Regions from separate parts of the Homo sapiens genome. Here all the other regions are reported to be linked to region 5. The links are microRNA targets in miRTarBase. Many come from high-throughput screens and were not tested one by one. Region 5 holds a microRNA gene; each other region holds the end of a gene's coding sequence. Distances are between the middles of the regions.

Evidence for each region. Region 5 holds the annotated microRNA hsa-miR-4742-3p (UCUGUAUUCUCCUUUGCCUGCAG, at 2,482-2,504, shown strand). A microRNA usually pairs through its seed, bases 2 to 8, with sites in the 3' UTR of a target mRNA and lowers its output. Matches are read on the target gene's strand: a 7mer-m8 pairs with bases 2 to 8, a 7mer-A1 pairs with bases 2 to 7 and ends in A, and an 8mer does both.
Region 1: miRTarBase lists AKAP11 as a target of hsa-miR-4742-3p. Seed matches in the 3' UTR shown: 7mer-A1 at 2,576-2,582, 7mer-m8 at 2,583-2,589 and 7mer-A1 at 4,381-4,387.
Region 2: miRTarBase lists NIPAL2 as a target of hsa-miR-4742-3p. Seed matches in the 3' UTR shown: 8mer at 1,907-1,914.
Region 3: miRTarBase lists UNC80 as a target of hsa-miR-4742-3p. Seed matches in the 3' UTR shown: 7mer-m8 at 3,180-3,186.
Region 4: miRTarBase lists HJV as a target of hsa-miR-4742-3p. Seed matches in the 3' UTR shown: 7mer-A1 at 3,613-3,619.
Region 6: miRTarBase lists TTC8 as a target of hsa-miR-4742-3p. Seed matches in the 3' UTR shown: 7mer-m8 at 4,016-4,022.
Region 7: miRTarBase lists INF2 as a target of hsa-miR-4742-3p. The part of its 3' UTR that is shown has no 7-base or 8-base seed match.

What each region holds. Positions count from the first base shown.
Region 1 is chr13:42,318,357-42,322,913 of GRCh38, forward strand. AKAP11 (A-kinase anchoring protein 11) reads left to right here. Exons shown (of 13, transcript NM_016248.4): 13 at 732-4,557. The coding sequence ends at 872. Among named protein-coding and RNA genes, the nearest start is that of AKAP11, 48 kb to the left of the region's middle.
Region 2 is chr8:98,188,814-98,193,345 of GRCh38, reverse strand. It overlaps NIPAL2 (NIPA like domain containing 2), which reads left to right. Exons shown (of 11, transcript NM_001321635.2): 11 at 256-3,520. The coding sequence ends at 368. All of the region lies in intron 2 of NIPAL2-AS1 (NIPAL2 antisense RNA 1), which reads right to left. It also overlaps the pseudogene RNU6-914P. Among named protein-coding and RNA genes, the nearest start is that of NIPAL2-AS1, 15 kb to the right of the region's middle.
Region 3 is chr2:209,994,765-209,999,321 of GRCh38, reverse strand. UNC80 (unc-80 subunit of NALCN channel complex) reads right to left here. Exons shown (of 65, transcript NM_001371986.1): 65 at 26-3,993. The coding sequence ends at 3,727. Among named protein-coding and RNA genes, the nearest start is that of RPE, 5.6 kb to the left of the region's middle.
Region 4 is chr1:146,014,416-146,018,972 of GRCh38, forward strand. It overlaps HJV (hemojuvelin BMP co-receptor), which reads right to left. Exons shown (of 4, transcript NM_213653.4): 4 at 3,055-4,285. The coding sequence ends at 3,662. Among named protein-coding and RNA genes, the nearest start is that of HJV, 5.0 kb to the right of the region's middle.
Region 5 is chr1:224,396,731-224,400,730 of GRCh38, reverse strand. It overlaps MIR4742 (microRNA 4742), which reads left to right and starts at 2,420; the gene lies at 2,420-2,504. It overlaps WDR26 (WD repeat domain 26), which reads left to right. Exons shown (of 14, transcript NM_001379403.1): 10 at 1,697-1,842; 11 at 2,138-2,216; 12 at 2,505-2,634.
Region 6 is chr14:88,877,148-88,881,636 of GRCh38, reverse strand. It overlaps TTC8 (tetratricopeptide repeat domain 8), which reads right to left. Exons shown (of 15, transcript NM_144596.4): 15 at 3,649-4,343. The coding sequence ends at 4,227. Among named protein-coding and RNA genes, the nearest start is that of TTC8, 55 kb to the right of the region's middle.
Region 7 is chr14:104,714,411-104,718,967 of GRCh38, reverse strand. INF2 (inverted formin 2) reads right to left here. Exons shown (of 23, transcript NM_022489.4): 21 at 4,112-4,557; 22 at 3,628-3,684; 23 at 1-173. The coding sequence ends at 3,629. Among named protein-coding and RNA genes, the nearest start is that of ADSS1, 7.5 kb to the left of the region's middle. RefSeq lists an enhancer at 3,353-4,292.

The sequences.
Region 1 (4,557 bases), not on the chromosome of region 5:
AATTGTATGTTATGTGAGTTTTATCTCAATAAAGCTGTTTTTAAAAAGGTTAAGCATATATATGTTACACAAAATTAAAGTAGTTTTTCAGAATTTAACTTACAGATCTTTCAAAACTTAAGAGCTTTTACAGAACTTAGTAGAAAAAGAAATGAACAAAAGCATGTCGTGAGTGGTGACAACAGGATTTATTTAAACCTGTATTTATTTATTTATTTATTTGTTGTTTTGTTGTTGAAACATTAACATTCTTTAACTTAGAAAGCCATGTTTCCATTGAGGCTAGAGTGTGTATTCCAGAAAAATGCCACACTATATGTTGTGGAAGGAAAATCCACATCCTTTTATTGAGTTTGACGTTGTCTTTATTATTTTATGTCCTAATTGAGGGTGTGGCAGTTGTATTTAGTTAGGTGAAGAATTTCCTGTAGAAACTCAGCCTCTGCATGTCCATGCAGACTATTTGCTTGGTGAGGTTTGTGGAGCTCTGTCTCCAGCGATCCCAAAGTGTCATTCTCTGGAGGAGATGTGTTTATAAAGGGGAAGAAGGGAAAATGTTTAATTTGGGTAAAGGGGTAGCGGTTTAGAGGGGAAGACCTTGTTATAACTAGGAAACGGTATTTAATTGTAAACAGCAGGATTCTTAAGTTTCAGCTAATATTGAAAATAAAAATAAAAGCTTTGTTATAAAATTGTTTTTGGTTAATGTTTGACACATCTTTCTTTCTTAGCTTTCAAAACAATTACAAGAGAAAGGATGGAAAGTGGGAGACCTCCTGCAGGCTGTGCTTCAATACTATGAAGTGATGGAAAAAGCTTCCAGTGAGGAGAGATGCAAGTCGCTGTTTGATTGGCTCTTGGAAAATGCATAGAGCAAACCCCAAACCAGTATATTTTAGTATTTGTTTGGGGAGGGGAACAAGCCAATAAAGATGTTTAGGATAAAATTTGAATAGTGAATATTAACATCGTAAGTCAGTTGGGAGGCAAGTAAATATAGCTTTCTGAGCGCTTTGTGTTATCACTCGGTGTATATAGTTCATACTTTTGTAATCTGTCAAAATACTACCTTCATTTATTCTTCTATACACATGTGTAGTGTGTCAAGACCCTAAGAACATGTATTTGAAGGAAGGTCTAACCAGGGGGTTTTCAGGGGCATTGTCTGACCACATTCTTTTTGTATCCAAATAGTGCTGCTAGAAACTGCACTGAAGTGGCTGAGGATAGGTTCCAGTGATAGAGTTATAATTTTGCTCCTTTGCAAACAAATGGTATCTAATTAATAACTAGTCTGACATCAGAAAATAAAATTGAGGCTGATTTTTAAAAATTTCTAGTAGATTTTTGGCCTTTCCTGTTTTTAAAAATCAGTTTCATTTTCATATTTCATAGATCAGCTATTGGTAGCTTTTTGATTTCCCCAAACTATTTAATTTCTTAGCAGAAACATTAGTATTTTAGGTTTCTATAAACACTATAAGTGATAGTTTCCCCCATCCTTTCATTGACATTATTTGCCAATGCTGCCAGTCATTCTGGCATGAAAGGTGTGTGTGTGTGTGTGTGTGTGTGTGTGTGTGTGTGTGTGTGTAAGGGAGTACTTTAACCTTGCCAGTTTGTTCCCTCTTTTATTTTACTGTTTTCTTTTTAGAAACCCACTGTTAAAATTTAAAAAGGTGCTTTAAAATAAAACGCCTATAAAGATTGTGCAGTAAGAATTTTTATTGACAATAATTAAAATTTTTTTTGACAATTTTGGGTTCCCAACTTATCTTACAAGTGAAAACTTAAATTGTAAAACATGTTGAAATTTTAAAAATTAATGTTAATATGGAAATGCATTTAGAGAAGCCCAGTAGTTTTTATTGTTGGATTTTTGAAAAAACCTCTACCAAGAATGTGGTGTTTTTTTTGTTTGTTTGTTTGTTTGTTTTAGAAAAATTGGGATTTCCCCCCACCCCGCCCCACCCAGATAAACTATATCTACACTGTCTCGTCAAGTTCTCTGACACGATCTTTCTGGGCTCTACATTTCCTACTAGTTTGTGTCCAGAAACTGCAAGTTGACATGAATAGAGGACAAAGGTTGTGTCTTGCTTTTGTCTCTCTCTTCCCTCCCTGCAACTCTCTCTCCCCTCCTCCCACTCTCTTCCCCCTCCCCCCTCCTCCCACTGTCTCTCACCTCCCCCACCCCCCACTCTCTCTCATCTCTCGCTGTGTCCTGTGTATGTGTGGGTGTGTGTGTATTTGGGTGTGTAAATGTTGGTTCTTCCACTACTGGATTTTGTAATCTAGGATAAATCACTTTTTTTGGGGACTTTGATTTTGCTCCATTACGTTTTCATTTTTTCTGAGCACTGACTGTTCTGAAAGCTGCACAAAACGTAGAAAGAAGACATAGCGCCTGCCAGGGAATAGGAAATGAGGGCACTTACACATTAATGTGAATTAGTAATTGTGGTATAGAAATGTTTTATAGTGAAAGATTCAAATTTGCTTTTCAAGAAAAATGCCAAAAGCTATTTAAATAATTCGAGGTTACATCGTAGGTTTTGATTTTTCTCAATTTAAGATACAGAAATACAGCAAGCCTTAATATAAAGTTTCCTAAAGTTTCTTCAAGTATTTTTTAAGGTGGAGAAATGCAGGAATTGTATAACCAGAATTGTTCCTGCCTTTAGCTTTTCAGAACTTGAGATGTGGCAGCACTGGACTGGGTTTTTTTAAATGTTAGGACTAGGAATGTTTGCTCTTGTTAATTATGAATTAATTGATTATTAAGTTTAGAATGCATTTTTACAAGTATCTAACTATCAAATTGTGTTTAGTAACTTGAGTGTATGCACAAGTTTGATCAACAGCAAAATAGAGTTCTGAATTTCTTTTAAAGTGATGATATATTATTTTGTGAAACTTTGTGTTTGAAAATGTTTATTTCTGTTTATGGTGTAATCATTCTGAGGTGAGGCTTTTCTTATTTCCTTTGCATTTTGCTAGAGCTGTGCTGAGTTCAGCATTTGCTTATTTAACCACTACATAATGACAGACCAGTTATTAGGTATTAGCATGTGTGGTAATAATAATAGTGGAACTTCACACTTACATCAATTCAGTGCAGGGGCATAGAATAAAATATTAAATATTGGCAGATGTATGAAAAGAAGTGTGAGTTAAAAATATTGAATATTGGCAGGTGTGAAAACAAGTGTCAAAATTCCTCATATAGAGAAAATAATTTTGAGTTTAGAGTATTATCTTTTAATTAAGTGTAGTCTAAACTTAACTTTCTGTAAAGGCACTTTGTGGTTTTTCCAAAGATGTTCTAGATCTATTTGGTTGCTCTATAGTCAAACAGCTCTTTTGAAGACAACTGTCTTATTTTATTACAAATTGGCTTGACATATTTATACTGTAACATTGTAATATTGCTGTGCTGTACATTTTGGCCCTTACGAAATACGTCTTTTTCAGAACTGTTAAAGTTTTGATGTACATCGAGCTGAATTCTGTTTTTACCAGTTTCAAAACCTTCAAGTGATATGTGGAAAAAAGTGAATGAGACCTCTGATAGGGGGTTTTCAGAACCTTGTTCACACCAAAATGTGACAGTTCTTTCATGTTTTCCTAAACCAAGTTAAAATTACATGTATATTTTGGTGTTAAGGTTGATTTTTAAGATACTTCTGATTTGTACAAAAGGAATGTTTCCTTTATAAATCACAGAAGAAAATGACAATATCTGTTGGATATTTGATATAATTTAATGGTGTTATAAAACCTTTAAGAGGATTCATGGTGAATATATGTGATAACATCTTTATACTTTGAAAAATGTTCCACTTACCCTTCAGATATTTGTTGTAAGTTAATTCAATTCTTAATACTTTAATTTTGCTCCAACAAGGGCTTTATGTTGCTGGTAAGAGAATTTATTTACTAAATGCACTATGTATAAAGTGAAAGATAGTTTACTTATCTGACTTTGATATTAGATGGCTGACATTAGTGCACATAATGCAGAGTTTAACCTTGATTCTTCAACAGAGTCCAGATTTAAATGTCTACTTAGTTAATTAGTTAGCTGATATTCTTCCACAATTAATATATTCAATTTCCCATCAGTATATCACTTTAAATTTTATGTTTTTCTAAGGAAACTTTCCACAGAATTTTAAACAACTGATGCATCCATACTCAGGGTGTAGGGAGAATACTTTGCATTTAAAAACCCTGTCCACCTGTCACCAGCACAAGAGAATTAGAGCTTCAGTGAGAATTTAGAAAAATTATACTAAAGTGAGATGCATTTTTTCTCATTTTCAGCAAGACTCCTCTAAGCATTTACTCATTTACTGTATTCCTGCTCTGAAGATGTGGATACAGAATTAGTCACTCTTGTCACTTTATTTATTTATTGGTTTTTTTTTAACCATCTGTGTACATTCCTTTCATAGGGTAGAGTTCTAGTTCTAGAAGTTCTTATTTTGTTTTTGTTGTAATGTTTGAATACTATTTAATATCCGGTTTTAATATTGCTGGATTTGCTACCTTTGG
Region 2 (4,532 bases), not on the chromosome of region 5:
CCTGATTTCCATGGCCAGCATGTAGATCCTGTGGGGTGGGGATAGTGGCTCTGACACAGACAATTCGCTATCACATAGCTACAGACATGGCGTTTCAAGGGCCTTTTCTTCCTTGATATTCATCTCTTCTCTTTAGAGAGTGCCCACATAGTATAAAAGAGAGGTGATAAAATGTGGCCTAGATTGAGGAGAAATTATTAAGACTTATTTTTCTGTAAGACCTCAAAAGATTCTCTATGATTATTATCTCCACAGGGAAACAAATGTTGGACAAAATACAACCAGATTCACATAGCTTATCCTATGGAACTTTGCCTGATGGAAGTGACTCAACAAAGAGCCAAAGTGGAGAGAAGAAAGAGGTCTAAATGCTGAGAAGGATGGCTGTTGGCCTGTTATTCGATACCACCTTTTTAAAAAATTGCACATGTTCAATTTGTGTCAGCAGCTCTTTTATAAGCTAACATGTGCTAGCATTCATTTCAGTCCTTTCCCCCACCTCAGCGTCTATGGACAATCGGGGACTTCCTAAGCTCTGACAGTCTAATATTTCCATGGAATGTGATTTGGAGTGTTCCCCACACCCTGGACCTCTCCCTAGTGATTATCTAGCCAGCTACACCTTACTCAGAGCCCGGCTGCTCTAGCAGGAATGTTGCACAGAAACATACATTTGCGGTTTGGCCACAGGTCGCATAGGTGGCTTCTCCCACGGGTAGTGTCAGTTGCTTCACTTTAAAAAGTCACTTCAGCCCCACAACCTCACTCCCAAAAGAAAGGTTTGAGAGCGCTCATTTTTTTTCTAAGACACCTTTTATAAGCCTCCCTATAAAAATCTCACCTTTCAAGTACTAAGTTAGAATTGCAAGTCATCTTTTCTGAAAACTAATGCTATCAAAGTCCTCCTTTGAAAATTAAGGGTCTCTTTAAAATTAGAATTTATAAATGGCATTCAGTGATAGTGTACACCAAAATTAAAAGACCTTGACTGGTGGGCTTTTTACGTGTAAGGAAGAGGAAGTTTAAGAAGTAGGACTCTGCTTGTTTCAGTAGCCCATGTACTAAAATAGGAACAATGCAGAGATTAGCACAGCCCCTGCACAAGGCTGACACATAAATTCATGAAGCGTTAGAGACAAAAAGTAGGACTAATGTTTGTTTATTTTTTAATAAAAATCTAGAATGGTGATGTTTTCTTCAGCTGTATGATTCTATCATACTTGAAACTGAAGAAAAATTTAATATCCTATGTCTTTTTTATAGATCTTATAATTTATCAAGTGGATTTATATGTCTTATTCTCCATATAAGTCTAAAAAATCACATTTAAATTCTTAGTGATAGTTTCACTACACATCATTTCTTCCCAAAGTCATTACCTCAAGCTTTGTAAATTCTTCTAGATAAAAGGAGAGTTGTGATTAGAGAACTGAATTTCAGCCATTTAAACCTGTAGACATAGAAAACAACCCAGTGGTCAAACCTGAGCTTCAAGAGGAAGCCCAAGTCCTCCTGTTTCCTGAATGGCTTTTCCACTCCAATTCATCACATATCTGCTAAGACACATTTGCAGGTAGAATCCATAATAATATCTGTTATTTATGATCTACCTAATATTTAAAGGAGAAGAAAAGAAGTAGCCTTCGTTGCAGCCAACATCCAACAATAAGTCCCACCCTTAATGACATTTCAAAGCCTTCAGATCACTTCTGACATGTCTGTCCAATATCATTCCAATCAATAGTCTTGCATTTAAATAGGTTGTTTAACTCGGTGGTATTGAGACTGTAACCTTAATGGCTCAGGTCTTTTAGCTTTGTTCTTTGTCATAATCTGCACTCCTGGCCAGACTGACCAAACCTGGCTGCAAAGGAAAGAGATTTGAATTGATCACCAATGTATGAAAAATACAGAACCCATGTCTGGCTCCTAAACTCCTGGTAATAATTCCCGCCATCGTAGCAAGTGTCCCATGCATTCAGATAAAGCAGTCATAATTTATGGTGTATTTTACCGAATTGGTCCAGCATATTGGTCCTACAAGGCTCAGCCAAGAAATGTATCTGGTGCCTTAAACTACAGATTTCTGGTGACTCTTAAAACTGGTTTACAAAGATTGAGAAAACAATTAGATTGAAGAGTTTTGCTTCAAGTAGACCTGCATTCATAGCTAGAGTGCATGAGATTTTCAGCACTGTAGAATTTCACACAGGCACAAGCATAACACCAGTACTTTAGCAGCCGCCAACAGTTGCATCTATTAAACGTTTTGAGAAATGACATTGACTTATGCACATTTAAGCAATCAACAATGTTTTAGAAGTCCAGGTAACATATAAAATATATTCAGACCTAGTTTTACTTTCCATATTGTTGCTCCAAAGTAAGGTAAATAGGAGTTTTAGTTGTACTGGCCTGTAAGATTTTTTAAATTACACAGTGCATGACAACAACTAAAGCCAACTCAGTCCTTCTCTTGGCATTGTGAGTTGAGGACCTTTAGCCAACTGTTAGCTCATCTGACTATCTGTCTAGACCAAGGGTCGGCAAAGTTTTCAGTAAAGACCCACAGAGTACATATTTTGGAGTTTGTGTTGTCTGTACCAACAGACAGACATGGTGTCTGTCCCAACTACCCAACTCTGCCATTGTAGCACTAAAGCAGCCATAGACAAGATGTAAACAGAAGAGCATGGCTGTGTTCCAGTAAAACTTTATTTACAGGCCAGGCATGGTGGCTCATGCCTGTAATCCCAGCACTCTGGGAGGCTGAGGCTGACAGATCATCTGAGGTTAGGAGTTTGGGACCAGCCTGGTCAACATAGTGAAACCCCATCTCTACTAAAAGTACAAAAATTAGCCAGGCATGACGGTGGGTGCCTGGAGTCCCAGCTACCTGGGAGGCTGAGGCAGGAGAATCACTTGAACCCGGGAGGTGGAGGTTGCAGTGAGCCGAGATCATGCCATTGCACTCCAGCCTGGGCGACAGAGTAAGACTGTCTCAAAAACAAACAAACAAACAAACAAACAAAAACAAGTGGCCAGTCTGTGAGCTATAGTTCCCAACACCTGGTCTAGACTCTTCTGCCCTTGCTCTGCAGCTTCTTTCCTGTTGATTGGGCATTCAGGGAAGGAGTTTAAAAAGTGACACTCATGGCTCATGACAAATGAGATACTTTGGGAGTGTGGAAACATGGCTTGATATTTGCCTTCAGATATTTTTGCTTATATAAGTTCTAAATGGAAGTGATAAGTTCATTCTTAGGGTCCAAGTTGAAAGGCAGTGGTTCTTTTGTGAACACCACTAACTACATTCGAAAAGCCTCTCCAATTCCACATTCCAAGTCTATAACAGCTTTGGAAATGAGTAACAATGACCTCTCATGTAGTAGATTAAAGCAGAGGCCTTTGCCATATGATTGTTTTTTGGCTTAAATGTTTGCTTGCCCTGTAACTGTAATACTTTGGTTACCAGAATCACTTGAAAACAAATACAATAAAAAAATTTCTCAAGCAGTGACCCAGAATGTATTCTTCCCCCTCTTCAATACCCCACACACTCCTAGAGATTCTGTTCTGTGGCAATGTAAGAAAGAGAAAGGCAGATTTCATAGATGAGTACAATTTCAGTGCTATGAAAGAGTAATGGTGGTAATGTGTAAGTTTGGCTCCAAAGGACGCAGGTGTAATGGTGGACATAACTCAAAGAGATAGAAATGTCGAGCCAAGTTCCCTAAGCCAAGCACCCTCTTTGTGCTCCTGTTTCCAAGCACGCAACTCATCCAGGAATGGTGAGTGTACACACTCAGCCATGCTGAAGGCTGCCTCAGTGCTTGCCAATTTAACAGTGATATGGTGGACATAAATATAGCAGTTACTGACATGAACCTTCCCAACACTCTTCCAGACTGCTTTACTTAAACTCTGTGGCTGGTTATAGAGGCAGTCTTTGCACTGGGCGGCTGCAAGGCTAATGCACATGTTTGGCACCAGTGAATGTGAGTCCTTTAGTGAGGTTGCTAGATAAACACCACACATTTTGAACTATTAGAATAAAATCTCAAAATTGAACCCAACGTGATTGTATGGGGAATTTAGAGGCTGCTTCTAATCGTTAGACTCATCAACAGTCTGGCTCTTATTATGACCATCTTGAAGTAAAACAATAAAATAAAATTCCACACATACACAGTTTCCATGCAAATATAGACCAGCCTTGAGCTATTAAACCTAGCATTTTAGCAATTGTGGTAAATGCAGGGAAGAGCCTTTCCACCCAGGAATTTTTGAGTCTGTTCCCTTTCTCACCAGCCTCAGGGTACCACACAACATGATGTCCTGTGCCAGAAGAGCAAATCAGTTACAGGAGCTGTGGCCCATCCAAGGAAGCTTTTTTTTTTTTTTCCTGAGAGGGAGGAAACTCCTCCTTTAATGTTGGTCCTTATTGAGAGTTAATGAGTCCCAACCACAATGTAAAAGAGAAATATCAATCCCAATATCAAATAAATGTGGTGTTTTGGGGTGCACCCTGC
Region 3 (4,557 bases), not on the chromosome of region 5:
CATTAAGAAATGAAACTTAGGCATCTTTAATGTTTTTAGATTTATTTTATCATATGTGCATACCTAAACACAGAAGTCTTAATATCTTTCATAAATATCTTTCATAAACATTTCAGTATTTATTCATATGCATTTTTTCCATGTTCTTTGGTCATTCAGTACTCATAATAGACTTCATAGTTATCTGAGGGAAGTCGGCTGTGTAGTCAATTTTTTGTTTTAACCTATAAAATGGCTAATAAAGGATTTTCATCCTGTGGTCACAGTGACAATTCAAAGATTTATGGAGGTAAATTGATCTGTAATCCTAAATGATCATAAAATAATATCAGTAAATTTGTCTTAAGCTTTTCCAAATACATTCTGCCCTCAACTTGTTTTTATTCTCCTGAGTGTCAAATCAAAATTTGTTTCTGAAATGCTGCAGTTGAGACCCACTAAAGTAAAAAGAAGTGGGATTTTTTACTCCCTGCCAAGACAAGGCCATGGAATGGGAAGTGTGAGGTCACAGGGCAACAGCATGACTTGGTGTGATAGCAGCGAATTCTGGAGACTGTGTTCTATTAAAGTATCCTTTATAACTTGAGGAAGGATATTTAATTCATGTTTCAGACTGTACTTCTATTCATTTATGACCCTTTCTTCCCTAAAAGCCCCTCCACACACATCCTATTCTCATCTCAGATACTCTCAGAGCTGGGCAGCAGAGTGGAGAAAGTTCTTTGTTGACTAAAGGAATATAATGCTAAAGAAGAGAGGAGCTATCACCTTGTTTAAGGTACTCTTGGAGGCTTGAAACAGCAAACCAGTTACTCCCAGCCTGTGCAACAGGCCCTAACCAGATCACCAGTACCACAGATTTTTCCACCAGCACTGCCATGCCCATTTATGCCCTTTGATTTTGACACTGTAGTTCTCAGTGCCTTGTCTTAATACACTCAATAACTCAGTTTCTTTTTCAGAAAAATGACATAGCTTATCTAATAGAATTCTAGAAAGCAGCAAATACTGAAAAATGAAAGTAAAATGTTTTGCTATAGGAGATCCTATATCCAGAATTTAAACTGTTTTAATTGGATCTGAGTCATACTATCATGGATAACACATGGTTTATTCCAAGGTCTCTCAAAAGCTAATTTCAGAAGAAGCAACCTCTTTGCTGAGTCTAATTTTTTCTACATGGGAAGTGGGTACCTTTTTTGTTTTTCCTCTGAATAAGATAAATATCATTAAGTATCATGGCTTAAGAAATGATCTACTATTACCAACACTGCATTTATCATATGTAGTAATTAGCTTTTAGTCATGTACTTAATAATATTTTGAACATTTATCTTGAGCTTTTTTCTAATCTTCCCCAACTTTTTTTTTTAATAGTTATTCCTTTCAAACTCCAGGTAACAGTATTCCTGAGAATACATCTTGTGACAGTTTTATGCACATACATATAGATACTTTAGCCATTACACATAAACATTCAACACATTACATTCAACACATTTAAGGGCACCTTAAATGGAACAGATGCACACATCTGCAAAATTTCAGTAGTCCCAGTATGAAAACATTCCTACTCTATAAGGCCCTGTTTCTCAGAGTGGAGGCTTTTTTGCAAGTTACAACATTGCTTAGCTTATTGAAAGTTGCTAATAGACTTCACACACAAGAGTGAAGGAGTCAGGCTAAAAGACAGACAGACCAGCATAATCATGTTCAGAACAGCCCAATACTTTTAAAATACATATAAAGGTATTTATGATTCTTGTTGAATATTTAACAATCTTCTTTGACTTCTTTGCTATTTAAATATTTCATACAATTATACATAGATAATTTGAAGAAACTGGAACAAAGCACACACATATATAGAGACGCGCCAATAGCCCAGACACTTGTAATTACCAAACATAAGGCCTCTAATGCTAATTTAGCAGCATAATTTTTAACAGGTGAAATATATCAGCTTGGAATCATAAAACCACTTAACATTTATATTCCTGCACTTGAGAATTATTTCAGCATTAACTGTAAATAACATGATAATATTGTAAAACATAAAAGAGTAAAAGAGGTCATTTACTGCCTCAATTTTCTTTCAATTGTTAGATCTGAAATTTTTAGTTTTGTTCTTTTAACTCATGGATATCTTTCATTCTCTTAGTGAATAGGACCATAACCCCAAGTTATATTTGAAATTATAAACCACAGTATAAAGTATGCCTATTTAATAAGCAATTCTAACAAAAAATAATTTTCCTTTATGATTAAGGTGGGTTTAGTAGGTATCCTCTTTATATATGTATACATTTCACAGCCAACGCACTCAAAGTTTAAGCATACAGAATGTGTTTTAAATTCATTGCAGGGTAATTAAAGTCTATATTTAACTTCATCTTGAGGACTACAACACATACACACACACACGCACGCACACATACACCACCGTACCAATTTAAGTATGTATATGAGTTTGTATATGCTTGGTTGTTAGGTAACAGTTTTCTAATGTAAACTGTTAAAATTTTGAAATTCAATTGTGAACCACGTGATGCACAGCCCTACCATAGGATCAGTAACACACTAGGTGTTGGCCTCACAAGCCTTCTAAGTGTTACACTTTTCTTGAAGTAATTGAACTTCAAGTTAAAGGCCTATTTGCAAAATATATAAACTGGAGGTGTCTATGAAGAAATTGCTTACTTTATACATTTTTCCTTATAAACTTAGATGTTCCAAGTATCATAAGAATATTGTTTCTATTAGGAAAATGTTATTTTATTAAACCGATTCTAACAACACTAACCTTAATATCTGAAAATATGCCCTCCAGGGCAGGCACAGGATACTATAAGGAAAAGTATTACTAATCACATTTTCCAATAGCTTCTAATCTTGGTATTGATGTAGTCAGGGCTAGGAATAGGAATACCATCTCTTTTAAGTGATTATATATACATTTAGTTTTTATAATTGTATAGGCTGTTTAGGTTCTTAATTCAGAATTATTTCTGATGATTTCTAGAATATTCTGTAATATTCTAATGTGATAGATTATGAAATGGGATGATCTTATGCCATCTGCATTTTGATTTACAACATGCAATGAAAATGATAGTTGAAAAATAAATATCTAAAAGTCCACAGCTCTCTATATAGTATTTTTTTCTTCTTCTAAATGGCTGTATTGTTACTCAAAACAAAAATGGCTGCAGGCTTGTTATTTAGTCTCCCCAAAGTAATATTTTTCCTATTAATTATTTTTTTATGTAAATTGCTACTTGTATAGCCAACCTGAATTGATATTTTTTAAACTATAAAAATAAATATTTGCATGAGATGTATAATGTGAGTAATCTCAAAAAATTGCATTCTATTTTTAGATCATATCATTTGTTAATATTTCTATGAAAGCAGCAATGAATAGTATATATTTTTAACTGCTGAAGGCTTCTTGAATCATAAACAATGTGCAGTGAAATGGCTCTTTCCCCTTATTCCTCCCTGGTTTTGTGATTTTCACACAACTAAATCCTTTTAGCCATTGACTTTTAAGATGTTTATGAAACATCATGTGTATTGGCAGCAAAACCTATTCAGATTTGTGCCACCCATTAGAAGTAAAGTGCTATTTTGTAATTAATCTTTTTCAAGCAAAAGTATTGAACTTGTAGTAGAGAGATCACTTTCATGTCTTCTCTATACCTGCAGAGCTTACAAGATACAGAATTAAACATGAGACTCATCTAATACTGCATCCGTTTTCCCCAGCTCAGTGGGAGTAAAGGTGAACTGACTAGATAGTAGCGGGTTCTCCATGCCATTTTCCTCACTGATATGAAGGACAGTGTCTCCATGCTGTAGGAGGCTGGATGTCTCGAGGCCTGTGAAGTCATCAGGGTCAGAGAGTTGGGCAGAGAGTGGACTGTGTGCAGTAGCACCTTGTGCTTCTGTGTCCTCCTCCTTTTCTCCTTCTTCAGTGGGGAAGTTCTCACTCTGTGATCAAAAGGATCATAACATTATGGAAAGATAGGATGGGTACCAGAGAAGAACATCAAAAAATGTTGTTGTCTAGTGGTAATTGGAAAAGGAATCAGATGGCTAGTCCCAGTTCCAGCCTTTGTTATAGGTAGGACCTTACGTAGGCCTTTCCAACTTTCTAACCCTCAGTTTTTGAACATGTAACATGAACACAATTTTTTGTCTTGCTTATCTTGTAGACTGTGAGGATCAAATGAGATAATAATGCTTAGTGTTAAAATGTTTTTTAACCATTAAAGACTATACAAATGTATACAGTAACATTGCCCTTTAGTTTTCCTTAAATACCACATGAGAAGAATCTGACACTCTAAGAATTCATTTATAAAAATGAAAAGAAAAAATATACCAAAACAAGAAAAATATCAACAGGAAAAATAGCAAAACAATGAGGAAAAAGATGAAAACAAAAAGTTCCTTTCATCTTATAGGACATAGAGGTTCTATATTTAGAGGCTTTATCTAAACTGGTAACTTAATTTTTTTAAATTGAACTATCTTTCAGCTATCCTTTATCTG
Region 4 (4,557 bases), 78 Mb from region 5:
GTTTTTGTGCAGCACATGTTATCATTTCTCTTGGGTCAGTACCTAAGTTTGGAATGTCTGGTTTGTATGGTAAGTGTACACTTACCTTTTAACGAACTGCCAAACTGTTTTACAAAGTAGTTGTACCATTTTACATTCCCACCAACAGCACATGAAAGCTCCACATTTTCCTAACATTTTGTATTTTATTTAACAGTCTTTTCCATTTTAACCATTCTAGTGGGTATGTAGTATTTTTTCATTGTTGTTTTCATTTGATTTGTATTTCCCCAGTGACTAATGATGTTGAGCATCTTTTCATATGCTTATTTTGAGCTACCTATTTAAAAATGCTCCATTAATAATAGGGCTAGTTGGGCTGGGCATGGTGGCTCATGCCTATAATCCCAGCATTTTGGGAGGCTGAGGCGAGCAGATCACTTGAGGCCAGGAGTTCGAGACGTATCTGGTCTGCCATTTCAAATTTCTCCTGCAATTCTTTATCCTCTATTCCCTCCTCTCCACCTCTTTTAAGGACCACAGCCATTCTGCCATTCCCTCAAAGCACTGTCTCTATGCTTTCCAAAGTAACCTTTAGCTAATGGAGAAAATAATGTGTTGTAATGAAGAAAAAAAAATTGGGGGAAGAGACATATCCAGGGCTGTCTCTTCACTTCACAGAAAATATAGGTATTTTAACTCAAAACATCCTTTTGAAGAAATACTCTTTGTATTGGTTCTCTTAAAAGAGTAACTTTATCCCTCAGGTGTGGGAATTTCAAGTGAATTGAGAAGAATTTCGGCTGGGCGCGGTGGCGCACGCCTGTAATCCCAGCACTTTGGGAGGCCGAGGCGGGCGAATCACGAGGTCAGGAGATCGAGACCATCCTGGCCAACACGGTGAAACCCCGTCTCTACTAAAAATACAAAAAAATTAGCTGGGCGTGGTGGCGGGCGCCTGTAGTCCCAGCTACTCGGGACGCTCAGGCAGGAGAATGGCCTGAACCCGGGAGGCGGAGCTTGCAGTGAGCCGAGATTGCGAGATTGCGCCACTGCACTCCAGCCTGGGCGACAGAGCGAGACTCCGTCTCAAAAAAAAAAAAAAAAAAAAAAGAATTTCACAGCCAAGTGGTAAGTGAAATTCTTTGATGACACCTGTCATGTAATACTCTTCCTTCGCGCGGGCTTAGAGCTAGCCTTATTTACTTTTTTTTTTTTTTTTTTTTGAGACGGAGTCTCGCTCTGTCGCCCAGGCTGGAGTGCAGTGGCGCGATCTCCGCTCACGGCAAGCTCCGCCTCCGGGGTTCACGCCATTCTCCTGCCTCAGCTTCCCGAATAGCTGGGACTACAGGCTCCCACCAGCACACCTGGCTAATTTTTTGTATTTTTAGTAGAGATGGGGTTTCACCATGTTGGTCAGGCTGGTCTCAAACTCCTGACCTTGTGATCCACCCGCCTCAGCCTCCCAAAGTGCTGGGATTACAGGTGTGAGCCACTGCGCTCGGCTACTTCCCAAATATTTTCAGTGCGTGGTTGGTTGAATCTGTGGATGCAGAATTAGTAGATACAAAGGGCCCTACTGTAATATTTGTTCAGGGGAGTATTGTCGGGTGTCAGGGACTGAGAGGAGAGGTGGAAGATAATGGTGAGTACTTGATTAGGGCAGGGAGGACAGGTCCTCGGTTATGGAGTACCTGAGAGGGGAGGATGAGACCAGAAACAGGGAAGATATTAAATGTAAAAGTTACCTCCTTCATAATTTTGTTCAGAGCAGCATTGTTACTTTAGAGCACCCTCATCTAGAACAGCATTTCTTCTCAGTCTTTCTTCTACAAACTAGATTCCTTCAACTTTGGGCTTTCCCTCCTTTTCCAACTCTCTCTTTTTGGCTTTATATGAGAATATGAGAAGAGAGTAGTTGTTTTTTGTTTGATAGTCTCACTCTGTTGCCCAGGCTGGAGTGCAGTGGCGTGGTCTCAGCTCACTGCAACCTCTGCCTCCTGGCCCGGGTTCAAGCAATTCTCGATTCTCATGCCTCTGCCTCCTGAGTAGCTTGGATTACAGGATTACAGGCATGGACTATCATGCCTGGCAAATTTCTTGTATTTTTAGTAGAGATGGGGTTTTACCATGTTGCCCAGGCTGGTCTCGAACTCCTGGCCTCAAGTGATCCACCCACATTGGCCTACCAAAGTGCTGGATTACAGGTGTCAGCCACCGCGCCCAGCCTCAGAGTAGCTTTTGTGGTGACATTGACCACCACAACTCCCCTTTTAGAATCTTTACCAGCTCCACAACCAGAATCTTTAATGGCTCTCTGCTTCCTTGACAATATAGTATAGTGATTAAAAATTAAGTTTCGGGATCCAAACGGCATAGGTTCAGTTTCTGGCTCTGCCATTTGTTAACTGTGTGACTGGAGGCAAGTTCCATAATTTGTTAGCTGTGTGACTGGAGGCAAGTTTCCTTATATAAAAATAGAGATAAGAATACCACCTTCCTTAGAGAGCTATGAGAATTAAGTCAATGTTTTAAAAGTGTTTAAAACATTGCCTGGCAGATTTTAAGCTTCAATAAGTGTTAGATATTAATCAAATTTAAACCCCTTACCCCCTTTTTAAGGTGCTTCATAATCTGGCCTCTGCCCATCTAACCTTCTGTCCCATTACTCCTTGTCTACTGCATTTGAGTTTTGCTCATTTCCTTGCTGAATCATGAATCCATGCATAACTCCAGATGGTTTTCATTGCCTGGAAGATCGTTAACAATTTGAATCTTACCCAGTCTTCAAAGCTCACTTCAAATCCCATCTTCTCTGTTACCTTTTATTATTCTTATTACTTTAGTTCAAATCTACCATCTTCCCATCTGAATGTACCATACTGTAGGATTTAGTGAATAATTACACACTCATCACTCTTTCATGTGAATTGGTTTTGTCTCTCCAATAGCCTGTAAACTCCCTGAGATAGCAACAGTATCTGATACTTCCGAGCCCTCTTTCAGTGGAGTGAACACATTGCATTTACTCCATTTCAAGCATCTGTAAAGAGATTCAACATAGGCAACAGAGGATGGTGTGAAGAATTTGTAGCTTTAATAACAGATTAGTTAGGGGGTAGGGATGATACTTCTGTCCTACCTGTGCCATTCTTCAAAAGCAGAGACTCCCTTCACCTAAGAGCTAGACAATGCCTGCTTCATTTTTGAATCAAGAAAGCAGAACATACCTTACACACACATATTCATCAAATAGACTTCTTTCCCTAATTATGTCTTCCTCCTTTGAGTTTCTTATGGCTAATGATCATGTCTTCTGCTTTCAGCTCTTGCCTCTTAAAAATCTCAACCCTTAAATCTTTACTGATCATTAAAACCTTCATGACCTCTAAACTTATAAGGGTGAAATCTGCAGTAAATGGATTAGAACAATTTGTTTACTATAAATGAGGCTGGAAAAATTGGTGAAGAGCCCCACAGAGATCCGGAATGCAGTAACCTTGCCCAGAATCCTTATTCTGTGATAATTTCAACCCTGGACTGCAGCCTCATCTGACTCTGGATAATGTCATTGTTTCACGTGTCTCCTAGGCCCTGCTTCCTTTAATGATTCTTTACATTCTTCTATGCCAATCTGTATCTCCAAATCATTTCCAAACTAGTAATGGGACTGATGGTCCCCTTACTGAATGCAAAGCCACAGAACAAAGAGCCCAGAAAGGAGTGGAGCTAAGAGGGTTGCTGAGGAAAGAGGAACCCCAGCATCTGAGGGGAAGAGATGCAGCTTCTCTAAGTCTGGCAGGAAGGCTCGGGCATCCTCCAGTGCTGCCTGAGCTGCCACGGTAAAGTTGGGATCACCAGAAATTAAAACATCAAAGACACAGGAATGGAAGTAAGCATCTTCCACTGGAAGCCCTTCCTTGCACAGCCGTCTGGCAGTATCAATGGTTATAGCTCCCCGACGATTGCGCTCTGATCGAGAGAGTCGCTGACTTGGAGGGCACCCCCCAACACAGAGCTGCAGGTCCTGTTCAGCTGAGAAGGCCATGGCCACATCCTCTGCTACCTTGATGGAGAAGGAGAGCTGCCCAGCTGTCTGCCGAATGATTATAGTTGTGCCAATGTAGGCAGCTTGGATCTCCACATGGTTCCCAGGGTTAGCAGTTTGAATCGACAAACTGGATCCCCCAGGTCGGTCACCTCCATTGATAGAACCATCTTCAAAGGCTACAGGAAGATTATCCACCTCAGCCTGATACACCTTCTGATCAATGCATTCCTGCATGTTCTTAAATATGATGGTGAGCTGTGAGGACAAGAGGGAAAACAGTTCATTTTGGGTTCAGTGCATCTTCCCCCCAATCAGACCTCATACATAGTTAGAGATCTGATCCAAGTAGAGATGCAGGACTACTATGGCCCTCAATCCTTGATCCCTTCTCCTATTTATGTTCCAGTATTACCTCATCCCTACTTAACCCCCTCTCTACTTAATCGTGGCAACTTCCTAGGAGAGGGAAAAGTTTCCCTTCTGAAACTCCTCAGGTCCGCCCTCTCCGACTGTCTCTTCAAGGTTTT
Region 5 (4,000 bases):
CTACTAAAAATACAAAAATTAGCTGGGCATGGTGGTGGGTGCCTGTAATCCCAGCTACTCGGGAGGCTGAGGCAGGAGAATTGCTTGAACTCAGGAGGCGGAGATTGCAGTGGGCCAAGATCGCGCCATTGCACTCCAGCCTGGGCAACAAGAGTGAAACTCTGTCTCAAAAAAATACATAAATAAAACAAAATATACTCTATGAACACCTACTTTGCTGTCGTCGTAGACAAGCGCTGTCCAATAGAATTTTCTGGGTCATTTTTTTCCTTTCTTTTAAACATTTCAAATGTTTGTACAAAGTATAGACTTTGGATTTAGTAGAACAAAAAAATGTGTTTTGCTAAACATTTTTGTTTTTATGAGCAAGTTTCTAATTTATAAGAATTGAAAAGATTTTTTAAATTTCTTTTGAGATTTTTGTAACCAAAAAAAAAAAACACTGAATTTTATGAGTAGACTCCCTTTAATATTTGAATAATAAAAGTGGTGACAGGTGCTACCAGAGTACTTTTCAATCTTTGTGTCAGCTTCTAATAAGTAGCTGCCCTAATTATTTTGAATTGTTGGAATGATAAAAATAAGTTTTATGGCAAGGTAAACTTTATATCATAAGTATCATTTATATCATAAATCATTGTTTACCTTGCCATAAAACTTTCTCTGTTACTTGCAGTGTAGTCTAGATTCTGTGTCTCATATTACAGACTCACATGGTCCCAGTATGCACGTCCACATTTTTTTTGTTGTTTTTTAAGAGACAGGGTCTTGCTCTCTGCCACCCATGCTAGAGTACATTGGTGTGATCATGGCTCACTGCAGCTTCAAACTTCTGGGCTCAAATGATCCTCCCGCCTTGGCCTCCCAACGTGCTGGGATTATAGGCATGAGCTACCACACCCGACCCCAGATCAATTTTTTAAACTAAAACAAGATAATAAATCATTTAATTTAGCTAAAACAGGTTATCAGTTTCTTTTATTAAGCTCGTTTGGAACACATGGATTTTGGTGTTATATTATCTCAATATGGTTATGAATTGTTCTTAATTCCCTGCGTGCAAGATGATCATGTATGTTTCTGCTGAGTTTGCTGTCCTATACTGTGTTAAGCCATCAAGATACAGGATTATCTAACTTATAAAATGGGAAGGGTTGTTCCTCTCAGAACTTTGGATATTCAATGAGATAATGACTATAAGAGCTTTGATCTGTAGAGCACATTACAAATTTGGTAAATTTTTGAAAAATGTCATTAACAGATTCCTCCAGTCTGTATGAAGCTGTAAAATGTTTTAGAATCTTTTTCCATTTCACAACTCCTAAATATTAGGACAAATTCCAGTATAGTGAATTTTAAAGGAACGTTTAAATTGTTTTTGAATAAAAGTAAGACCTTACTTGGAACTTAGGGACTGTTTCTTTCTTTGTGTTATTTATGCATGGTGAGTTATTGAAGGGAAGATAGAGCTACAAAGTGTCTCTCTGCTTTCCCTTAAGTATGGTTGTAATGAAATTTGAACTATATTCAAATTTTCATGGTTAAAAACACTTCTAGAACAATTAGGTTGAGATCAGTCTCAGGAAAAAAAAAAAACCTGTTACTAAAAGATATTGTGAAGGGAGTCTTTTGGTTCTTTATTTGCTTTCTGAGTGCTGTTGAGTAATGAAGTTAATAGTAGTTTTTTCTTACTCAGGACTTAGATGGTAATCTCCTTGACTCCTGGGAAGGGGTAAGAGTGCAATGCCTTTGGTGCTTGAGTGATGGAAAGACTGTTCTGGCATCAGATACACACCAGCGAATTCGGGGCTATAACTTCGAGGACCTTACAGATAGGAACATGTAACTATTTTTTGTTTCCATTAAACAACAATTACCTGATTTATATTCAAATGTGTAGTGGAACTTGCCTTTTCACAGTTTTTATGTTTTTCGTTTTGGTTTGCGTGGTAATTTGGATTGAAGGTCACATGGTACTTAGTAATCAGTAACTCAGATTCTTCTCAATTGAAGTATAGTATGTAATAGTGATTGCAGGCAAAATTGTCATACTTAAGCTAGCACATCTTATGTATTGATAATTTGAATGTCTTGACTGTTAATATGTTGTTTTTGACAAATTATTTTCTGGTTCCAGAGTACAAGAAGATCATCCTATTATGTCTTTTACTATTTCAAAAAATGGCCGATTAGCTTTGTTAAATGTAGCAACTCAGGTATGTTTATTAGTATAATTTTCTGAAAAATTTGGCTTAGTACAAGTTTTATTTTAACTGTTATTTTCAGTGTATTTATATTAACAAAATTTTCTACTTACCCTTAAATTTGATTGCATGTGATTGATCCTTAAATGTGTATAATCAACCATAAATTTGTCAGAATGTTGGTATTTTGCATAATAGAAAATGAAGATATTTCATCAGGCAAAGGGATATTTACAGATACTTTTTAAAATTTGTTTGAGTTGAGGCAGATTAAATATCTGTATTCTCCTTTGCCTGCAGGGAGTTCATTTATGGGACTTGCAAGACAGAGTTTTAGTAAGAAAGTATCAAGGTGTTACACAAGGGTTTTATACAATTCATTCATGTTTTGGAGGCCATAATGAAGACTTCATCGCTAGTGGCAGTGAAGGTAAATTGTGTCCTTATCAGTTTACATATGTTGATATTAAAGTCTGTAAATCTCAATTTATGAAGGCAGTCATGTCTCCAAGAAAATTCAGGGTAGTAAGTTAAAATTCTTTCATTTATCCAATACACGGTTAATTTCTCTCTGTAATGACCTAAGCCCCTGTATTATCACAAATTGTCACATGCTGTCATGTATTACTTTCTCCTTTTCTGTAATGACCTAAGCCCTCCATATTGTCATGTATTGTCACGGATTAGCAGTGCTTATTCTGACCACGTAGCAGTGTGTTTGGTGCATGTGTCTAATCAAGATTTAGTTAAATTATTATACTTTCATATGTTGACTTGTATTTTCATGGGACTGATGGTTTTTAAGGGTTGGTAGTATCTGAAAAATCAAGGTTAATTATGATGCTCTACCTGAACTTGGACAGATTTGACTATAGTTAGTTCTTCAGTATTTCTTCAGCGGTCACCAGAGTTATAATTGAGTTTGATAATTCTTAAGATTTTAGGAAAGCTGAAATTATTCTTCCTACTACTACCCTTTTGAATAAACTTGTTCTCTAATCTAAAAGTGTCAGTATTCCAGACAGGAATATGCCTAAAGTCACTCTAAAGTGTGAATTGTTTAGAAGATGCAAGCACAAATAAGTGAGGCAGTAATAAAAATTAGTGTACTTTTTAAGGCGATAGGAACTTAACTAGTGGCAAATTATTGCAAGTTTTTATTCAACACATTTTTCTTCAATACCCACTGTACATTTCTAGGTACTATAAAAGCAAATTATTTAAGTCACTTTTTTTGGCCGGGCATGATGGCTTACACCTGTAATCTCAACACTCTGGGAGGCCTAGATGGGAGTACTGCTTGAGGCCACGAGTTCCAGACCAACCTGGGCAACATGGCTAGACACTGTCTCTACAAAAAGTAAAAAAATATATACTGAATCTGGTTTTATAAGATAGACCAAGGAATTAGATTATGTTATGTTCCATTTATTGTATAAGATGTTTACTATCCCTATCTTGACAAAAAACTGATCTTGGTAGATAAGAGGATCATAAAGTGCACATGAGGTTTACCTTTAAGAATAAGGCATATTTAAGGATTGGGACAAAGAGAGACATTTAGAGATTTAGATTTTAACATCAAGCATATAAATTCATCTATTCCTTTTCTTTTCTTTTCTTTTCTTTTCTTTTTTTGAGTGCAATGGCACGATCTTGATGCAACCTCCACCTCCTGGGCTCAAGCAGTCCTTCCCTCCTCAGCCCCTCAAGTAGCCCCAACAAATTTTTGTAGAGATGGGGTTTCACCGCGTTACCCAGGCTGGTCTTGAATTCCTGAGCTCAAGCAGTCTACC
Region 6 (4,489 bases), not on the chromosome of region 5:
TAGAAGTAGACTCCAGATTAAAGAGGTTGAGGAATGAATGAAAGATGAGGAAGTAGGTAACAAAAGTCATCTAGCCTTTCAAGACCTGTGACAAAGGAGATAGGGTGGTACTAGAAAAGGGGGCAGGTTTTATCAAGGATAGACTGGATAAAGAAAATGTGGTACGTATACACCATGGAATACTCTGCAGCCATAAAATGGAAAGAGATCATGTACTTTGCAGGGACATGGATGGAGCTGGAAGCCATTATCCTCAGTAAACTAATGCAGGAACAGAAAACCAAACACCACATGTTCTCACTTATAAGTGGGAGCTGAACAATGAGAACACATGGACACATGGTGGGGAACAACACACACTGGGGCCTGTTGTGGGGACAGTAGAGGTAGGGAGAACATCAGGAAGAATAGCTAATGGATGCTGGGCTTAATACCTAGGTGATGGGTTGATCTGTGCAGCAAACCACCATGGCACACATTTACCTATGTAACAAACCTGCACATCCTGCACATACACCCTGGAACTTAAAAGTGGAAGAAAAAAAAAACACACAAGAGAAATGGAAGGAATTTAATAAAATTTGCCACACTACTCTCAAGATTGTAATGATATATATGCCCAACAGTGAATTTTGACAGTACCTTCACCTCATATATAATAAACATTTCAAATCTTTGTTCTCTGAAGAGGTTAAAAATGTATCTTTCTCTTGAATTAATTTCATTCTGTTATCAAATTTTTTTTGTTACATATGTTTATCAACCATTTTAATTTCTTTTATGAGTTTCCTTTTCAGGTTATTTTCTTTCTCTTCCTTTATTTTAATAAACAGTTATATTGTCTATTTTTAAAAAGGGAGGCAGGCTTAAAGGAAATGTGATTTTTAAAAAAGACATAATCCAGTAGAGAGAAATAAATTGAAGCTATTAGACCAGAAGAGGGGTGGGGTTTGGGGGCGGTGACAGTTGCAAGGTGCTGGAGTCCATAAAAACTTGAGTTTCAAATATTGGAAGAGGGTCTCTCTTTCTGATTTAAAAAGAAAACAAAATTCTTCCTAAAATCTGTTTAGGTCTAGCCTCTTCTCCAAGATAACACGGTTGCTTTCACCAAGAGTTCCCGTTGTTTTCACTTAACAATCCACTTTCCCTTATTAGTCAGAATTAGATTCAGGTAAAGAAAAGGATCACATTGCAAGAAACATAGTTCCCAAGGATTATAACAACATGTCTATTCTTTCATTTCAAGGACTGGCTTTGACATCAAAGAAGTGAAATAATAGTCTCTCTCAAAAATGTTGTTTTTATTTAGCTAAAAATAGGACGAATGCCATCTATATGGATAGATATGAAAGTGCAGTTATTTTCAAATTGCTAAATAAATGTTTCCCCCTCAAATCTGAGCCTAGATGACCATTTTGGAACTCTGCAAGGAACATAAACATGGAACATTCCAATTTCTCTATTTCCTAGAATACAAAATTATTTGGTGATGGCTTTTTTTCCTACACTTGATTTCTGGGTTATTTTCTAAGGTTTAGTCCTGCCAGCCTTTCTAAAATATTTGTTTTCTGAATGCTTAAATTCAATCCCAGCTGAAAGACCCTGACAGAAATCCCTCATTGTAGTAAAGGGTTGGTGGTGGAAACTAAAAGTGTAGAGACGCTGGGTGCAGTGGCTCACACCTGTAATCTTAGCACTTTGGGAGGCCATGGCGGGTGGACCACTTGAGGCCAGGAGTTTGAGACCAGCCTGAGCAACATGGTGAAACCCTGTCTCTACTAAAAATACAAAAATTAGCTGGGTGTGGTGGTGCATGCCTGTAATCCCAGCTGCTTGGGAGGCTGAGGCACGAAAATTGCTTGAACCCGGGAGGCAGAGGTTGCAGTAAGCCAAGATCATGCCACTGCACTTCAGCCTGGGCGACCGAGCAAGACTGTCATAATAATAATAATAATAATAATAATAATAATAATAATAATAATAATGTAGTGACACGTTACCTTTATTAATTTTCTTATCTGTAGGCCATAAATTGTATCCTGATAGATAATCTGAGCCTGGGAAAAAGCACTCAGAAATGCAATGGAAGAGTTATCACTATGGGGACTGGCTCAGCCATGACACATTTGTAAAAAAGGAAGAACTTCTAACCTCAGTAATGTTTTAGCGCAGGAAGCCTTCTTGCCAGATCTCATTTTCATCAGTTGGAAATATGCTCGATGATATGAATTTTGGTTGAGCAATTTGTATTTATGGATTGAGCACCTCTTTAGCCACAGTGGAAAACTGGAAAACAATTATTAGTATTTTTTGTGTTCTTTCTACAGAAATGTTGGCACAGAAGCCAGAAGTTACGCAGTCCATAGGAAATGTTGTTACAAAGACATCCTGAATGTCGCTTCTGATACAGTCATCCACGGTGCTATGTCATCATTCTGCCCTGAGCCACTGTGACTCATTCTTTGCCTTCATGCTCACACTGAATTCACATAAATTCAAGACAAAATCCCTCCATATCACCTTAGGAAAATGGAATCATTTATTTTTTGCTGTGTTAATATTCCCTTATTATTCAACTTTCCTAATGCACACAATGTTCATTTTAAATGGTAGTAGATTTATTTACAGCAGAAACAGAGAGAGGTGATTTGACCTAGTGATTAAGAGCACACACTCAAGAGGCCACGCTGCCTAAACCTGAATCTTTGGCACTTACTACTAGTTCAATAAGCTTTTTACTATGCCTCAGTATTCTCATAAGTAAAATGGAATAACAGCCTGCATAGGACTACGGTGAGAATGAAATGAATTCATTCCCATAAAGAGCTCAGAACAGTGGGCATATTTAACATCCTCAGTAAATGTTCAGCCATTCTTATTAGCTCTTATTTTAAATTAAGAAAATGATTCACATTATACCATTTGAATCTAAATATTGACTACGATATTAGGAAATGTGATAGTACCTGAGGAAATTCTCAAGGGCTAAATAAACACTAACACATCACAGAGAACCAAGAAAGGTTCAAGTCTAAGGTGCAGGAACAAGACCTTGGGCTGCAGCTATGGATGTGACGCGGGGCCTTGCTTTCTTGTCTGTAGTGAATGCTAGCCTTGAGCAAGCTATCATTCCTTGAATTCAATTTTTTTGTTCTCTCAGCTGAGTATACAATTTATACAAATCTGAAAAGAATAGAAGTATCTATCAAATAGTTTTCATGAAGTTAAAAAAATGAAAAATAACATGGAGGTCCCAAAGTCCAAAGTATGAGTTTGAGTGGTCCTGTCCCATTAACACATTTCCTTGTGTGAACACTTTAATAAGAGTTCCACTAAATAAGGCAGAGAAAAGTTCAAGAGCCTTTCTAAGGCTGCTATGCCATGCATGGTACTGGAATATTGCTGACTTCCGTGCTGTGGCTGACCAGAAGTGGGACTCCTGGCCTGTGACTCTATTTCTAATCTGAATATTCTTATTATTAATAATGTGACATCCCATAAATCACTTTTTAGGAAAAAACAGAATTGGTGGTATATCATTTGAAATAAAATTAAAATAATGATGATTTCTAAGATTACTGGACTTCTGTAAAACCTGTTTCACCTGAGATGACTAAAATAAAAACTCATTAAAAAATAATGAAATGATGGTGTTTTACACAATGATTTATTTTAAAGCTTAATAGGAAATCACAAAGTATTTAATAAAAAATAGTTTTAAATACATTTTTAAAGTCTTAAGGAAAGTCTCTATTTATAATCCTCCCACCTCCACCTCCCAAGTAGCTGGGACTATAGGCACATGCTACCACACCTGGCTTAAAGGTGCAGTTTTAATGGCAGATTTCAGACTCCTTAAGCTACATGATGGCTAAGAGTCAGCTTAAGGACTTAAAAAATGTACATTTATAAAACATTGAGGAAATTCACCAAAATGTTTTGTAAACATTATAAACAAACATCTACTATATAATGTGAGAGACAGTTTCAGGATCTATTTAGAAAGGTTTAAATCCTGTATTTTATAATATTATTTTATAAAGTTACTATTACTATGAAATTTGCATTACACATTCTGTGTCACCCTTATGTGTCACCTTAACTAATATCAAGGACAGGTTTGTTAAAATATACGTATTACACTATATACATACATACACAGACATAGTGCTTTTTTCCCCTTGCATAATGCTGCTTCATAAGAACATATGTGGTCTAAGGAACAATCAGAGCATAGCAAAATGCTGCCTTAATTGTTTAATTAAATGTTGTGTGTCCACATGGTCTGGAAATGCTGCTTCAGACTTCTGCGCAGCAACATAGCTTCTCTGCAGATCTCCAATCTGCAAAAAATACAAGAATAAGACCATGGAATGAGATCAGAAAAAAATGAGTAAGGAAGTAAAAAAGAAAATAAGACATAGTATCTGCATGCTGTAGAAATTCAAAGGGTTCTTTTCTTTTTTTTTTAACAAACCCACAACTAACA
Region 7 (4,557 bases), not on the chromosome of region 5:
CCAGCCACAACACCCCAAGAAGGCTCCAGGAGGGCCCCGGCTGGGTAAGGCACGGAGTTTTGGTTTCCGGGGCCCAGTCCCAGCCTGGCCCCCAGAAGAGCCTCTCTTGGCAGAATGGCAGCATGTCCTGTGGCCTGGGCTCTCTCACTTGGCCTTGGGCCTGGGCCTGAGGCCTGTAAGAGAGAGAAAAAATGACATTATTAGGAGCAGTTTTGCTGGGTACAATATCAGGTGCCCGCTTCTGGGTGCCCAGGTCCCTGAACCCCTCATCGCCACTGTCCAGCAGGTTGTGCCATGCATCGCAGGTCCACTCTGACCCCAGGCTCTTTCTCTGGAGCAGCACAACTTATCTAGGTGGAAGGTGCCGGGCTGGCCTGGCCAGGCTGGGTTTTGGCAAGGCGTGGCAGCCTGAGCCTGTCTCCTCTCTGCTGAGATAGGGAATCTCTGTGGCCTGTCCCCCACCCCCTGTCTGAGACCCAGGCTGCACTCTGTCCTTACTCATTCATCCCCACTGCCACCCCCTGCAGCCCTCCATTGCTTCCACGTCGGGCCCTGGGCCCCACACGAGGACCCCAGCAGCGCTTTCTCCAGTGGGCTGCTGAGGGCGCTCAGCCCTGCCCCAACAGCTCCCGCCACCCAGACGGCCCCCACACATGGCCCCACAGGCCTCCTGCCCCCAACGCCCTCTTCGCTTTCTGGTCCAGGGGCCCTCGATGGCCCTTGTCTGAGTGTCACCCCCACTGCCACCACAGTGCCAGGTGGTGTCCCAGCTCCCCAGTGGGATGGCCCAAGCAGGGTTTGAGAACCACTACTCTAAACAGACAGCAAGAAAACAAAAACTATCCAAAACAATCACTCAAAGGAGGGTCTCAGCACCATTCCCCACTCAGGGAACCTGGAGAAATGGCCAAGACCAAGGCCCGTGCAGGGATGGGGGGATCAGCAAGTCTGGGGTGAGCTAGGAACAGGGGCTTGTGCCAAAGATGGGAAGCGCTCAGGGCCCCCGCTGGTCCCCATCAAATGCACGGCAGTGGCAGTGAAGGATTACTGCACGTTCAAAACTCACGTGATGGAAAAAGGGAGGGGAGGGGGGAACGCTCGGACGAGGGGCGGCGAACACAGAACCGCGCTGCAGCGGTTGGTTCCACAGGTCACCACCGGTGCTTATTAACCAGACAGCGTGGTGTTCGTGCAGTGGAGGTTCAGAAACCACCCCCGCAGCCGTGGTCAGCGCTGCTGCCACAAACGTCCCCACCCAGCTGGGGAGGACATGGCATCCCTTGGGGTAGAACTCCTGCCCCAAAACTCAACCTGGACCTACTTGGGGGCGCAATCAGGCAAACCCAAAGTGAAGTTATCTTCCAGAACGTCAATGTCATACAAGACAAAAAGGGGCAGGAATGTTCTAGAACAAAAGAGACTGAAGTGATATGATAACCAAACACAGCATGTGACTCTGGATACAATCTTGTTTGCAAAAACAACAAAGCAACAACTAGAGAAGGAATTATTGGGGCAAGTGGCACATCTGCACTGGGACCGAGTATTAGAAGCATGTGGACGTGAAGCGCCCCACAGCGGACCCTGCCCGGGGGGGACTGGGAGGACGGCAGCGCACCCTGCCCGGGGGGGCGGACTAGGAGGACGGCAGCGCGCCCTGCCCGGGGGGGGGACTGGGAGGACGGCAGCGCACCCTGCCCGGTGGGGGCGGACTGGGAGGACGGCAGCGCACCCTGCCCGGGGGGGACTGAGGAAGACGGCTGTGCTCTCAGGTGTCTGTGGGCGAGTTTAGGGCTCCAGTGCCATGATGTTTATAAGAAACTCTCAGATGCCTCAGTTGGAGGGGGGCAATGTAGCAAAATGGTCACAATTTTGGTATTTTTGGCAAATGGTTGTAATTTCGGGGAGAAGGTGTTGTTCATTCTGATCTATGCAGTTTCCTGTGGTGTTGAAGATTTTCTAAATAAAAAGGTGGGGGCTGGGCACGGTGGCTCACGCCTGTAATCCCAGCACTTTGGGAGGCCGAGGCGGGTGGATCACCTGAGGTCAGGAGTTCGAGACCAGCCTGACCAACATGGTGAAACCCTGTCTCTGCTAAAAATACAAAAAATTAGCCGCGCGTGGTGGCGTGTGCCTGTGGTCCCAGCTACTCGGGAGGCTGAGGCAGGAGAATCACTTGAACCTGGAAGGTGGAGGTTGCTGTGAGCTCAGATCGCACCACTGCACTCCAGCCTGGGCAACAGAGTGAGACTCCGTCTTGAAAAAAAATAAAAAATAAAAAGTTGGGGAGAGAAGAGGACTTCTTCCTCTTGCCCTCAGCCACGTGCGTGGCAGGAGCTGGGGCGGGTGGAGGCTAAGCACGTGTAGCAGGTTCAGGAGGGAACCAGGTGGAGCGTGGAGCTGGCACTGGACACGTCCATCTTTCACTGGACCATTGTCAGATGTGGCCGCCCGCCCCAGACCTGCATGCTCCACTGTTCCTCACACTCAGGGCCAGCAAGTCCAAGTTCCAGCCTCTAAGGGAGATGCCAGCACCTTTCTAAAAAGTACACGTGGGTGCTTCACACCAGAGAGCCACACTCGGAAGATGACCCTGGAAGCAAAAGCTGGAACCCAGGGTGAAGGCCGTGCCCCAACAGCGAGGACAAGCTGTCCGGAGAAGCTTCTCCGGGGTCACGACTGCTCTTGCCTCTGATGGGCACCAGCAGACCTCAGGTGTGCACCTTGAGCCTAAGCCCCAGGCCCAGCGGTCAGCATATTTGTGATGCACCGACACCGGGCTGGCTCTGAGCAAGGCTGGAGGTGCTGGAAGACGCCACGACCTGGGCTCACAGAGCTCATGATCGGCCGGGCTGGACCTTCTGGTTCTCTGCTCTAGCCCCTCCTCCACCCAGTGCAGGCTGGTCCTGTCTAGCTGGATGCATTGGCCTCTCCAGCCCTGTGGACGGACCTGGCTGATTGACCTTTGGCTGGTCGCCCCCCAGAAGACTCGGTGTGCGGGGGGTAATCTGCTTCTCCATAGACCCACCCATGGCCTCGGGGTGGGAGGACACTGTCCAACAGGAGGGGGGTTGCAGTGTACTTGTCCCTGGCAGCATCTGCCCTTGCGACTGTCCCGGTCTCCTCACAGACTTCCTGGGGACATGCCCCAGAAGGCCCCACGCCATTGACACACTTAGAGTGAAGATAGCCCTCCACCAACAGACAGAGCAGGAAAGCCACAGGGTTACTGGAACTGCAGTTAGCGCCAGGACACCAGACAGGAGCAACCTCAGCCTGTCCTGCCAGCCAGGAGGTCCCGCCCACGCCCCAGGGCCCGGATCCTGCTTGCTAAGGGAGTCCGGCTGGCCCTGCCACCTGCCCTCTCGAGGCCCGCATGCCCGGGGCCAGCACTGAGGTTGCGTCCTGCCTGCAGGAGGCACCAGTTGAGCAGGTAACCTGCGGAGAGGGAGGGGATGGGGCGGGAAGCCCACCACCAGGGCTGCGGGAGCGGCAAGGCCACACTGACGCACCACGCGGGCTGGAGAGAAGCCAGGTTAGTGTCCCGGAGGGGTGTGGGCAGCAAGCTCCAGCCCCACTGCCCTGCAGCTGCTGTTAGCCCCCACGGAGCGCCGGCTGCGTACATACCTTACTGGATCACACACAGTTTCTTTGTTTTATTATCATCAGAATCAGGGGGAACCTCTGCTTCCAAATAAAAGAAACGCACTCAACGGCTTATCACACAGAAGCAACCCTGACTCGGAGTGGGTGGGGCTGGGGGGCCCGGGACAGCCATGCCAACACCCTCTGAGGGCTGCCCGGTTCTCTGGCCACTAAGCCACATGGCAGCCACTTGCCTGGGACCTGGTGCCCGGTGTCCGCCCCCTACTCCCTAACGGAGGTGGCGTGAAGGTCGGAATTAGTAGGTTGGAGGAATAGTTGCACGGGCCGCGGCAGCCCACATAGCCGCCCTGCGGTGGACGCACTGCCGCCTCCTCTCCCGTGCCGCACCCAAGTCACCTCTCCTGGGTGCCGCTGGAACTTGCAGTGCCCAATGGGGAAGGGGAGGGACCGGCTGGGTGCCAGCGCCCTGGCGTGGGACGGTGCCCGGGGCCCCTCCCTGAGTTACCTTCCTGGCTCCTGGAGGGACGCTTCTTCCTTCGCTTCCCGGTCCCCTTTGAGGCCCGGCCCCGGGCCCTGGGGAGTGTGCCCGACCCCGAGGAGTCGGTCACCGCATCCTCGGAGAAGGACTTGTCCAGGGATGTGTCCAGTGCGGACTCTGGGGCCGTGTCCTCCTCGTCCTCGTCCTCATCCCCACCTGGGCCTGCTGCAGGGGGTCTGGCACCACGGCTGTGGACAGCGTCCTCCAGCCCCTCACTTGTGCTGTCGGCCTCGGCCTGGAGGACGCCCAGCAAGGACGTGGGATCCTTGGCATCTTGCCTTGAACTTCCGGCTGCAGGGGGCTGGTTGCTGGAGAACTTGAGGGGCTTCAGGGCCTGAGCATCTCCCAGAGTCACCGGCCAGGCCCCCTCCAAGGGCTGGGGGCACTGGGGATCCTCAGTGGTTAGGACATCG